2 linked regions of the Homo sapiens genome follow. The protein of the gene in region 1 interacts with the protein of each later gene in a biochemical or structural test. Each region holds a gene or a part of one and is shown on either strand. Other genes may lie near its edges.

Region 1 (5,326 bases):
CCTGAGTAGCTGGGACTACAGGGAGAGCACGTTTCTTAAAAGAGAAAAAGGATGCAGGGTGGCATATCTGGGTTGGCCATGAGTAGTGGCTGAATGGTGCCCTCCCCAAAGAGATGTCCACACAGAACCTGTGAATATGACTTTATTCAGATGAAAAGAGCCTTTGCAAATATAGAGTTTGGATATGAGATCATCCTGTATTAGGGTGGGCCCTGAATCCAATGACAAGCATCCTTAGAAGTAGAGGTCCTGGCGCGGTGATTCACACCTGTAATCCTAGCACTTTGGGAGGCCAAGGTAGACGGATCACAAGGTCAAGAGATCGAGACTATCCTGGCCAGCATGGTGAAACCCCATCTCTACTAAAAATATAAATATTAGCTGGGCGTGGTGGCGCATGCCTGTAGTCCTAGCAACTCAGGAGACTGAGGCAGGAGAATCTCTTGAACCTGGCAGGTGGAGGTTGCAGTGAGCCGAGATCACGCCACTGCACTCCAGCCTGGTGACAGAGCGAGACTCCATATCAAAAAAACATATAGTTAAAAAAAATAAATACAATAAAATTAAAAATTTGCCAGGCATAGTGGTGCACATCTGTAGTCCCAGCTACTTGGGAGATTAAGGCAGGAGGATCACTTGAGCCTGTGAGTTCCAGGTTGCAGTGAGCCATGGTTGACAGAGTGAGACTGTCTCATAACAGAAAGAGTGAGAGAGAGGAGAGGGAGAGGCAGCACAGGGAGAGGAGACCATGTGAAGACAAGAGGCAGAGACTGGAGATGCCCACAAGCCAAGGAATGCCAGGACCGCCAGAAGCCCCAGAAGTTGGGGGAAAGCCCCAGAATGGCTTCTCCCTCAGAGGCTCCGCGAGGAACCAGCCCTGCAGACACCGGTTTCAGACGTCTGGCCTCCAGAACGGATGCTGCATTTGTACTGTTTTAGGCCACCCAGTCTGTTATGGTGGCAGCAGCAGGAAACCAACACAGGGTCTCACTGGCTTGCCGCCCTCTGATCCCTGCCTCGGCTTTCTTTACTGGACCTGGTTGGTGGTGCTGCCAGACTCCTGCCCCAGTGCTCCTTCCACACCCCAGATGCAATGGTAGGCGTGTGGGTTTGCCCAACCCACTTTCTCTAGTGTTCCCATTTCACAGGGGAGGACACTGAGGCTCCCAGGGTTCCTGCTCCCCACCCACTGTCCTCCCAGTCTCCTCTCTATTACCTGCCTTTGATCTGGGGCATCCCCACCCAGCGGCAGCTGGTCCTAAGGCCACCAAGAGCCTGGTCATGAGCCCTGGTGCTGCAGAGTCAGGGCATCTACCGTGGGATGGAGGCCAGGACCCATGAGTGGCCTGGAGGCTGTGCTGGCAGGGCCCAGGCCAGCCTCCACCCTGCAGAGGAAAAGAGGAGGGCAGCGGGGTCTCCTCTGTTACACAACCCCCAGGGAGGGCCGGGGCCACTCCACGGCTACCTCCTGGGGCACTGCCTCCAGTGGTCTTCAAGGCTCCCAGGGCCTGGGGAGGGACCTGGCCGCTCTGACTGGGCAGGTGCTGCTGACAGCTTGCAGCCCAGCAGGCCGGGGTGATGGCAGGGCCGAGCCTCCGGCCACACAGCAGAATAGGGATCAAGGAGGCCAGGAAGCTGCCCTGTCTTGCCTGCAGTGCCCAAGCCCAGAGGGAAGGAGAGAACAGATGCCCAGACACGAGAATGGACTGCCTCCCCATTTCACAAACATGGAAAGTGAGGCTCATAAAAGAAGGGCACCAGGTATATCTGATCCCCACAGACACTGAGACAGATACTGAGAGTGACCACAGACTAGTCACTCTCCCAATCAGTGTAGCAGATCCTTTCTAATAAGGGGCCCTGGTGGAGTAAGGTGGGACCACCCTGATGCATCTCAGGCCAGGTTCCAAGGAATGACAAGGATGGGACAGGCACTGAGATGCGGAAGCTTGGAGACAGGTCAAAGTGACATTCCTGGGTCGGGCACGGTGGCTCACGCCTGTAATCCCAGCACTTTGGGAGGCTGAGGCGGGCGGATCACGAGGTCAGGAGATCGAGACCATCCTGGCTAACACGGTGAAACCCCGTCTCTACTAAAAATACAAAAAAAAATTAGCCGGGCGCGGTGGTGGGTGCCTATAGTCCCAGCTACTCGGGAGGCTGAGGCAGGAGAATGGCGTGAACCCGGGAGGCGGAGATTGCAGTGAGCTGAGATCGCGCCATTGCACTCCAGCCTGGGCGACAGAGTGAGACTCCGTCTCAAAACAAAAAAAAAAAAAAACAAACAAACAACAACAAAAAAAAAAACAAAGTGACATTCCCCACACAGAGGCCTGCCCCAGCCTGAAGACAGTGAGGGAACAAGTGATCCTGTTTCTAGGAGGTCAGGGCTAAGGGAAGAAGAGAGGCTAAAGGAAGAAGGACCCCAGTGGGAGCAGCAATGAGCGCCTCCCCTCCGAGCTCCAGCGTGTCTACTCTGCCCTGAGTGGGAGCCAGGTTCACCCAGAGGTCCCAAAGCCCCAGGCTGCGACTCTGAAGCCCCCCAGACCCTCTGAGCTCTGGGGATGGAGGCAGGGGATCTGGATTATCCCAACTCCCAGAGGGATGTGACGAAGGAGGCACCCAGGCGAGGACTCGGTACCTCTCCTGGTACTTAAACCAAATCCTGCAATCCAGGATCTCTGTCTCAACGCAGCTAAAATGACAACGAAAAGAACCCATGACTCACGGACTTCGGTGGCTCTGTGCATTCAGATGCCACAAAGATCCTACAGTCCCAAGACTCAGCCCTCAATCCATGCCCAGGACGACAGGATGAGACCCCCTGGGTCCAGTGGGCACGGGCACCACACAGCAGTGCGCATAGTGCAGGGGACGCCATGACATGTATGCAATGGTCCCATACGAATTTAAAAAAAGGCAACTTAGATATTAGCACGTTTCTATGCCTCCATTTACTTATTCACGTCTGCATAAGCACTGAGAAACCCAGAAGCCTCTCTAATGATGGTCACCCCAAGGACAAGAAACTCTGGGGGTGGGGGAGGCAGGGGGTGAGGAGGAGAAATTCACTTTTCCCCTTACAACTGTTTATCACTTTACTGTGAGCACATAACACTCTTATAATTAAAAACTGTTATATTCAACAAAATATGACAATGCCCGTGATGGCTCATGTGTTTTTTGTCTATTTCATCCTGCCCCACCCACTGAGATGTCAGCCCCCCAGGGCAGGGGTCTTGTGCAGGCCACATCCCCAGCCACCTGCTGAGCTCAGGAATGAGGCCAAAATCCTGCATCCTCAAAGCTCACCACGCAAATACCTGACCTCTAGGACCTCTAGGATTCTCTGAGAAGGGAAAGGAGGGGATGGAAAGAAAGGGACATCCAGGGGACAGGCTGGGGGTGGCTTGTGATTGGGGATCCCCAGGGCCAAACAGGTGGCTGTGACCCCTGAGTTTGCCCCTCCCAGGCCCTATTTCCACAAGACCCAAGACTGTCAGAAGCCCCACTTTTGAGCATCCCCAACCTGCCCCAGATCCCAGCACCCCTGGAAGCCCCAGGTCTCCATCTGCCTCTGCCCTCCCTGTGATCATGCCAGGACCCGCCCCCTCCGGCCACGCCAAGCTCCCCTGGACCCTCTCTGGCCTCGGCGCCCCCCAGCCCTGAATGGAAGCCTGGCTTGGCCCGGAACCAGGAGCCCCGAGGCAGAGGGTCGGGGCGGGGTTGGCTCGGCTGCTGCCACACAGAACGCCAGCTGCTGGCAGCGATTTATTTTTGCTTTAAGTGCTGGAGAATTGCAGGCCTGGAGCCGCCAGCTCGGGCCCGGCTGCAGCTGGAGCAAGCGGGGCGGGCAGGGGCAAGGGCACACCTCCGGCCACCAGGCCACTCCATCCCCCTTGACCTCTCCTGCCCCCGGCCTTTCATCCTCTCTATCATACACATCTCAGTCTCCACATGCTCCCTTCTCCCCGGCCCCTCCCCTGCCAAGTCCCCAAAAGCTGCCTGGAAGCATCAGGGACAGAGGGTCTGTGGCCTCAAGGCTGCGCCCCAGCCTTCCTCCGGGAACTGTGTGACCTCCGGCTGTGGGGACCCTCTCTGGCCTCAGGCTGCCCGCTCCCACAGTGGAGGTGTCACGTCGCACCCTCCTGTACACCCTTGGGGTGGAGGCAGGGAGGGCTGAGAAGTATCCCTGCTGCCAGTCCTCATGTTACCTGGTTTCCTTTTCTGCCCCCACTCCCCAGGTGAGCCCCAGGAGACAATCTCCCATCCTGGCACACCTGGCTGCACACCTGGCCAACCGGGCACACCTGGCTGAGGCCCAGGACCAGAACCTATCTGCTCCCCACAAAAGGGGCCACCAGCCCTGTCTTTTCTGAGGCAACATGGACATCCAGGGGAGGAGGGACGGGCAGTGCTCAGGCAAGCAGAAAGCATGCCAGTCTCTATAGTTGCAGAGGTGATCACTGCTGGCCACTAAAGCCGCTGGAGTTGATCATTGCAAATCATAAACATTTTTAAACATTTTATAACGTGGGTGTCATGTTCCAAAAAAAAGACTGGAAAGGAGAGGTGAAATGCATTGACATGAAACTCAATGACCGTGGGGAGTCTGGAATGCTTAACTGGGCAAGAAACAGAGACACTGTCCCCTCCCTGCCAGCCCCATCCCCTCAGCCGCCCTCCAAACATGTATGCTGAAGGCAGGAGAAAGGATTCAGCCATCAGCTGAGATATGAGAGGCCCCACGCCCCAGGCCTCAGTTTGCTGGGATCTGCAATGGGAACGGCTTGTGATCCTCAGAAGGAATCAGATGGGGACATCCTGAGCTGAAGCAGGCCAAGTGCTAGAGGACACAACAGGGCTTGGAGCTTGAAGCAGTGAGGGTACAGATATAAAGCACTCCACCCAGAGTAGGGGCCTGAAGGAAGCCCCAACTCCCTCCCACTCAGCCAGACAGACAGATGGCAGGCCAAAGGCTCAGAGAAAAGGTCAGAATCCAGCTCTGTCCACCAACAAGCGCCACAGTTCTTGGACAGTGACCTCTCTGAGGCTCAGTTTTCTCATCTGCAGAATGGGCTGACAATGCTGGCTACCATTGCTACCAAGCACTCACTGCATGTCAGGCACCAGGCCTGGCTGAAGCAGCCCATTCACTCTCTGTGTTTACTGGGCGCCTGCCATCTCCTGCCTACCGCTTAGGCACTGGGGACACAGCTGTGGTAGAATAGGTCCAAAAAGAGGAGATCCTATTCCAAGGGAAAGATAGACAGTAAACAAGATCAGCAAATAAAATATATTGTGGCAGATAGCATTAAGTTCTACA
Region 2 (4,856 bases), on another chromosome or scaffold:
AAAAACCGATCATTATACCAAAAAAAAAAAAAACCCACATGCACTTGTATGCTCATTGTGGCACTATTCACAATAGCAAAGACATGGAATCAACCTAGATACCTATTAACGGTGGAGTAAAGAAAATGTGGTACGTATCACCATGAAATACTATGCAGCCATAAAATAGAATGAAATCATGTCCTTTGCAGCAACATGGATGGAGCTAGAGACCACACATAATTCTAAGCAAATTAATGTAGAAACAAAAAACCGAATACTTCAAGTTCTCACTTGTAAGTAGGAGCTAAAGATTGGCCACATAGTAACATAAACAGAGGAACAACAGACACCATGGACTACTAGAGGGGGTGGGTGGGAGGTGGGGCGTGGGTTAAAAAAACTACATATGGGGTATTATGCTCACTATCTAGTTGTAATATACCCATGTAACAAATCTGCATATGTATCCCCTGTATCTAAAATAAAGTTGAAATTTAAAATAATCTACTTAGCCTTTTTGTGAATCACTTTTTAAAAATCTGTAAGATGCAGATGATTAGCCATCTCACAGCAACACTGTGATTATAAATTGAAATATTGGATGTAAATTTCTTTTTTCTTTTCTTTTTTTTGTTTTTTTTTTTTTTTGTTTTTTTTGAGACAGAGTCTGACTCTGTCGCCCAGCCTGGAGTGCAGTGGCATGATCTCAGCTCACTGCAAGCTCTGCCTCCCAGGTTCACGCCATTCTCCTACCTCAGCCTCCCCAGGGGAGCTGGGACCACAGGCGCCCACCACCACGCCTGGCTAATTTTTTGTGGTTTTTTTAGTAGAGACGGGGTTTCACCGTGTTAGCCAGGATGGTCTTGATCTCCTGACCTCGTGATCCACCTGCCTCGGCCTCCCAAAGTGTTGGGATTACAGGCATGAGCCACCACACCTGGCCTGGATGTAAATTTCTTAGCATGGTTTGTTGGGTGGTTTTATTGCCACCATGTCATCGTCATCATCATCATCATCATCATCATCATTATTTAAAGCCCGAAATTCTCTTCTGAACATCCTTTTGGCCCCAACCCAGGAATTGTGAAATACAATATTCTAAATGTTATTTTAGGAATGGTCTGTAATTGCAGTTTTGATTCCCAATTTAAACTCAGTTCTTCAGGAGATTTTTGGTGTTATTGTTAATTTCATGTAGTTAAATTTCCCAGATTTAGTGTTGCTGTTCTTACAATTTTTTATTAGAAAATTCCAGTTTAATTGCATCGTGCCACAGGATGTGTCTTATTTTTATTTGTTGGAATTCATTGAGGTTTACTCTGTTAGCCAGTATGTGATGTGACTAAGTGTTTTATGTGTTCTGTGCACATTTGAAAAGAATGATTATTCTGTGTTTTGGGTTTCAAATATGTATATATTCAAATGTGATATTAAAATGCAGTCATTATGGTCAACAAAGAACTGCTTATATGATAGTGGTCCCATAAGATTAAAATACCATATTTTTACTGTACCTTTTGTTACAAATGTTCAGATACACAAATACTTACCACTGTGTTACAAATGCCTACAATAACATGCTGTACAGGCTTGTAGACTAGAAGCAGTAGGCAATACCATATAGCCTTGGGGTGTAGTAGGCTATACCATCCAGGTCTGTTTAAGTACCCTATGTAACGTTTGTACGACGATGAAATTTCTCAGAACTTATCTTCATTGCCATGCAACACATGACTGCATATATATGTAAGCACATATTCAATTTTGTAAGTCATAGAATTCAAGCTCTTTATGTACATTTTGTCTAATTAATCTGAAAAAATCTTAACAGTGGTGTACATTGAAATCTAACACCATATTTGGAGTATATCTCTAATTTTTTTGTTTTACATATTTCGACGCTTTATGTTTACCCAAAGTTTTCTGATTTTCATGCCTTCATTGAGTGCTCTTTTTATCATTTTGTAAAAAAGTAATTCTTGATCTATTTAATAGTTGCCTCAATTTTTATTTTGTCTGACAAAATTAACACTGACACCTCACTTTCTTTTAATTTGCATTTGCACAGTATTTTCCTATCCCTTTATTTGTAACTTTATGTGATTAAGTTTTAAATGTGTCTCTTGAAAGTGGGATATAATTGGACTGGGGAGAGAGAGTTTGTTTCTTTAGGCTTTTTTTGTTTCCCTTTTTTAAACTGAATCTGAGAGTCTCTTTTATTTTAATGTGTAATCTTACTACAGAGCTTAATTGATTCATCTTTCTTCTCACATGTTTTGTTTTTCTTATTATGGCTCCTTAATTATTCCTTTTCTTGTTTTCCAGTCAACTTATTCACACTTTCTTTTCCTTCTTAATGAATCATAGGTTTCATTCATTTTATTTGATATTACTGGTGGCTATGTAAAGAATTTTTCAAAGCAATATTTGAGCCTGTATTTTTCCTCTTCATTGATTGCAAGAATGGCACTATCTGATGCCTCTTCCCTATGCAAGAGGTGAGGTGCTAGGTGCTCTCAGAGTGATTGACTATTTAGGGGACATCATAGATCATTATATATCATCTCTCAAGATTTTTTTTTTTTTTTTGAGATGGAGTCTTGCTCTGTCATCTAGGCTGGAGTGCAATGGTGTGATCTCGGCTCACTGCAACCTCCGCCTCCCAGATTCAAGCCATTCTCCTGCCTTAGCCTCCCGAGTAGCTGGGATGACAGGCACGTGCCACTATGCCCGGCTAATTTTTGTATTTTTAGTACAGATGGGATTTCACCAGGTTGGCCAACTGGTCTTGAACTCCTGGCCTCAAATGATCCACCCACCTTGGCCCCCCAAGGTGCTGGGGTTACAAGTGTGAGCCACTGCGCCCGGTCTAAGATTTATCATTTGCTTTATTTCAAAATCGTATTAACAACCGTCACTGAGACTTAAAATTTGTCTTGTTTTGTGGCCTGTCAATTTTTTTATCATCATGGTCTGCTCCCCCAACCCCTCCAGGCTCTTGCTCTGCCCTATCTTGAACTCCATTCTATTACAGCACTAAACCTTTTCAGTCCCCTGAATGTCCCATGCGCTCTCTAGCTTCCAGGACTTGGTGCAGGCTGCTTCCAATGCCTTCCAAATTTTCTTTTTTTTCTTTTTTTTTTTTAATTTTGTTATTATTATACTTTAAGTTTTAGGGTACATGTGCACAACGTGCAGGTTTGTTACATACGTATACATGTGCCATGTTGATGTGCTGCACCCATTAACTCGTCATTTAGCATTCAATAAACGTAATCCAGCATATAAACAGAACCAAAGACAAAAACCACATGATTATCTCAATAGATGCAGAAAAGGCCTTTGAGAAAATTCAACAACCCATCATGCTAAAAACTCTCAATAAATTAGGTATTGATGGGACGTATTTCAAAATAATAAGAGCTATCTATGACAAACCCACAGCCAATATCATACTGAATGGGCAAAAACTGGAAGCATTCCCTTTGAAAACGGGCACAAGACAGGGAAGCCCTCTCTCACCACTCCTATTCAACATAGTGTTGGAAGTTCTGGCCAGGGCAATTAGGCAGGAGAAGGAAATAAAGGGTATTCAATTAGGAAAAGAGGAAGTCAAATTGTCCCTGTTTGCAGATGACATGATTGTATATCTAGAAAACCCCATCGTCTCAGCCCAAAATCTCCTTAAGCTGATAGGCAACTTCAGCAAAGTCTCAGGATACAAAATCAATGTATAAAAATCACAAGCTTTCTTATACACCAATAACAGACAAACAGAGAGCCAAATCATGAGTGAACTCCCATTCACAATTGCTTCAAAGAGAATAAAATACCTAGGAATCCAACTTACAAGGGATGTGAAGGACCTCTTCAAGGAGAACTACAAACCACTGCTCAAGGAAATAAAAGAGGATACAAACAAATGGAAGAACATTCCACGCTCATGGGTAGGAAGAATCAATATCGTGAAAATGGCCATACTGCCCAAGGTAATTTATAGATTCAATGTCATCCCCATCAAGCCACCAATGACTTTCTTCACAGAATTGGAAAAAACTACTTTAAAGTTCATATGGAACCAAAAAAGAGCCCGCATTGCCAAGTCAATCCTAAGCCAAAAGAACAAAGTTGGAGGCATCACGCTACCTGACTTCAAACTATACTACAAGGCTGCAGTAACCAAAACAGCATGGTACTGGTACCAAAACAGAGATATAGACCAATGGAATAGAACAGAGCCCTCAGAAATAATGCCGCATATCTACAACTATCTGATCTTTGACAAACCTGACAAAAACAAGCAATGGGGAAAGGATTCCCTATTTAATAAATGGTGCTGGGAAAACTGGCTAGCCATATGTAGAAAGCTGAAACTGGATCCCTTCCTTACACCTTATACAAAAATTAATTCAAGATGGATTAAAGACTTAAATGTTAGACCTAAAACCATAAAAACCCTGGAAGAAAACCTAGGCAATACCATTCAGGACATAGGCATGGGCAAGGACTTCATGTCTAAAACACCAAAAGCAATGGCAACAAAAGACAAAATTGACCAATGGGATCTAATTAAACTAAAGAGCTTCTGCACAGCAAAAGAAACTACCATCAGAGTGAACAGGCAACTGACAGAATGGGAGAAAATTTTTGCAACCTACTCATCTGACAAAGGGCTAATATCCAGAATCTACAATGAACTCAAACAAATTTACAAGAAAAAAACAACCCCATCAAAAAGTGGGTGAAGGATATGAACAGACACTTCTCAAAAGAAGACATTTACGCAGCCAACAGACACATGAAAAAGTGCTCATCATCACTGGCCATCAGAGAAATGCAAATCAAAACCACAATGAGATATCATCTCACACCAG

The links. Proteins that work in one complex are often made in the same cells at the same time.
Region 2: the proteins of KCNJ12 (region 1) and IL16 interact in a test that uses a peptide from one of them, tested with the Homo sapiens proteins (one large-scale study listed by IntAct).

What each region holds. Positions count from the first base shown.
Region 1 is NC_000017.11:21,381,726-21,387,051, reverse strand, and holds part of KCNJ12 (ATP-sensitive inward rectifier potassium channel 12), read right to left. Parts: intron 1-5,326. UniProt on the Homo sapiens protein: Inward rectifying potassium channel that probably participates in controlling the resting membrane potential in electrically excitable cells. Probably participates in establishing action potential waveform and excitability of neuronal and muscle tissues.
Region 2 is NC_000015.10:81,203,021-81,207,876, reverse strand, and holds part of IL16 (pro-interleukin-16), read right to left. Parts: intron 1-4,856. UniProt on the Homo sapiens protein: Interleukin-16 stimulates a migratory response in CD4+ lymphocytes, monocytes, and eosinophils. Primes CD4+ T-cells for IL-2 and IL-15 responsiveness. Also induces T-lymphocyte expression of interleukin 2 receptor. Ligand for CD4.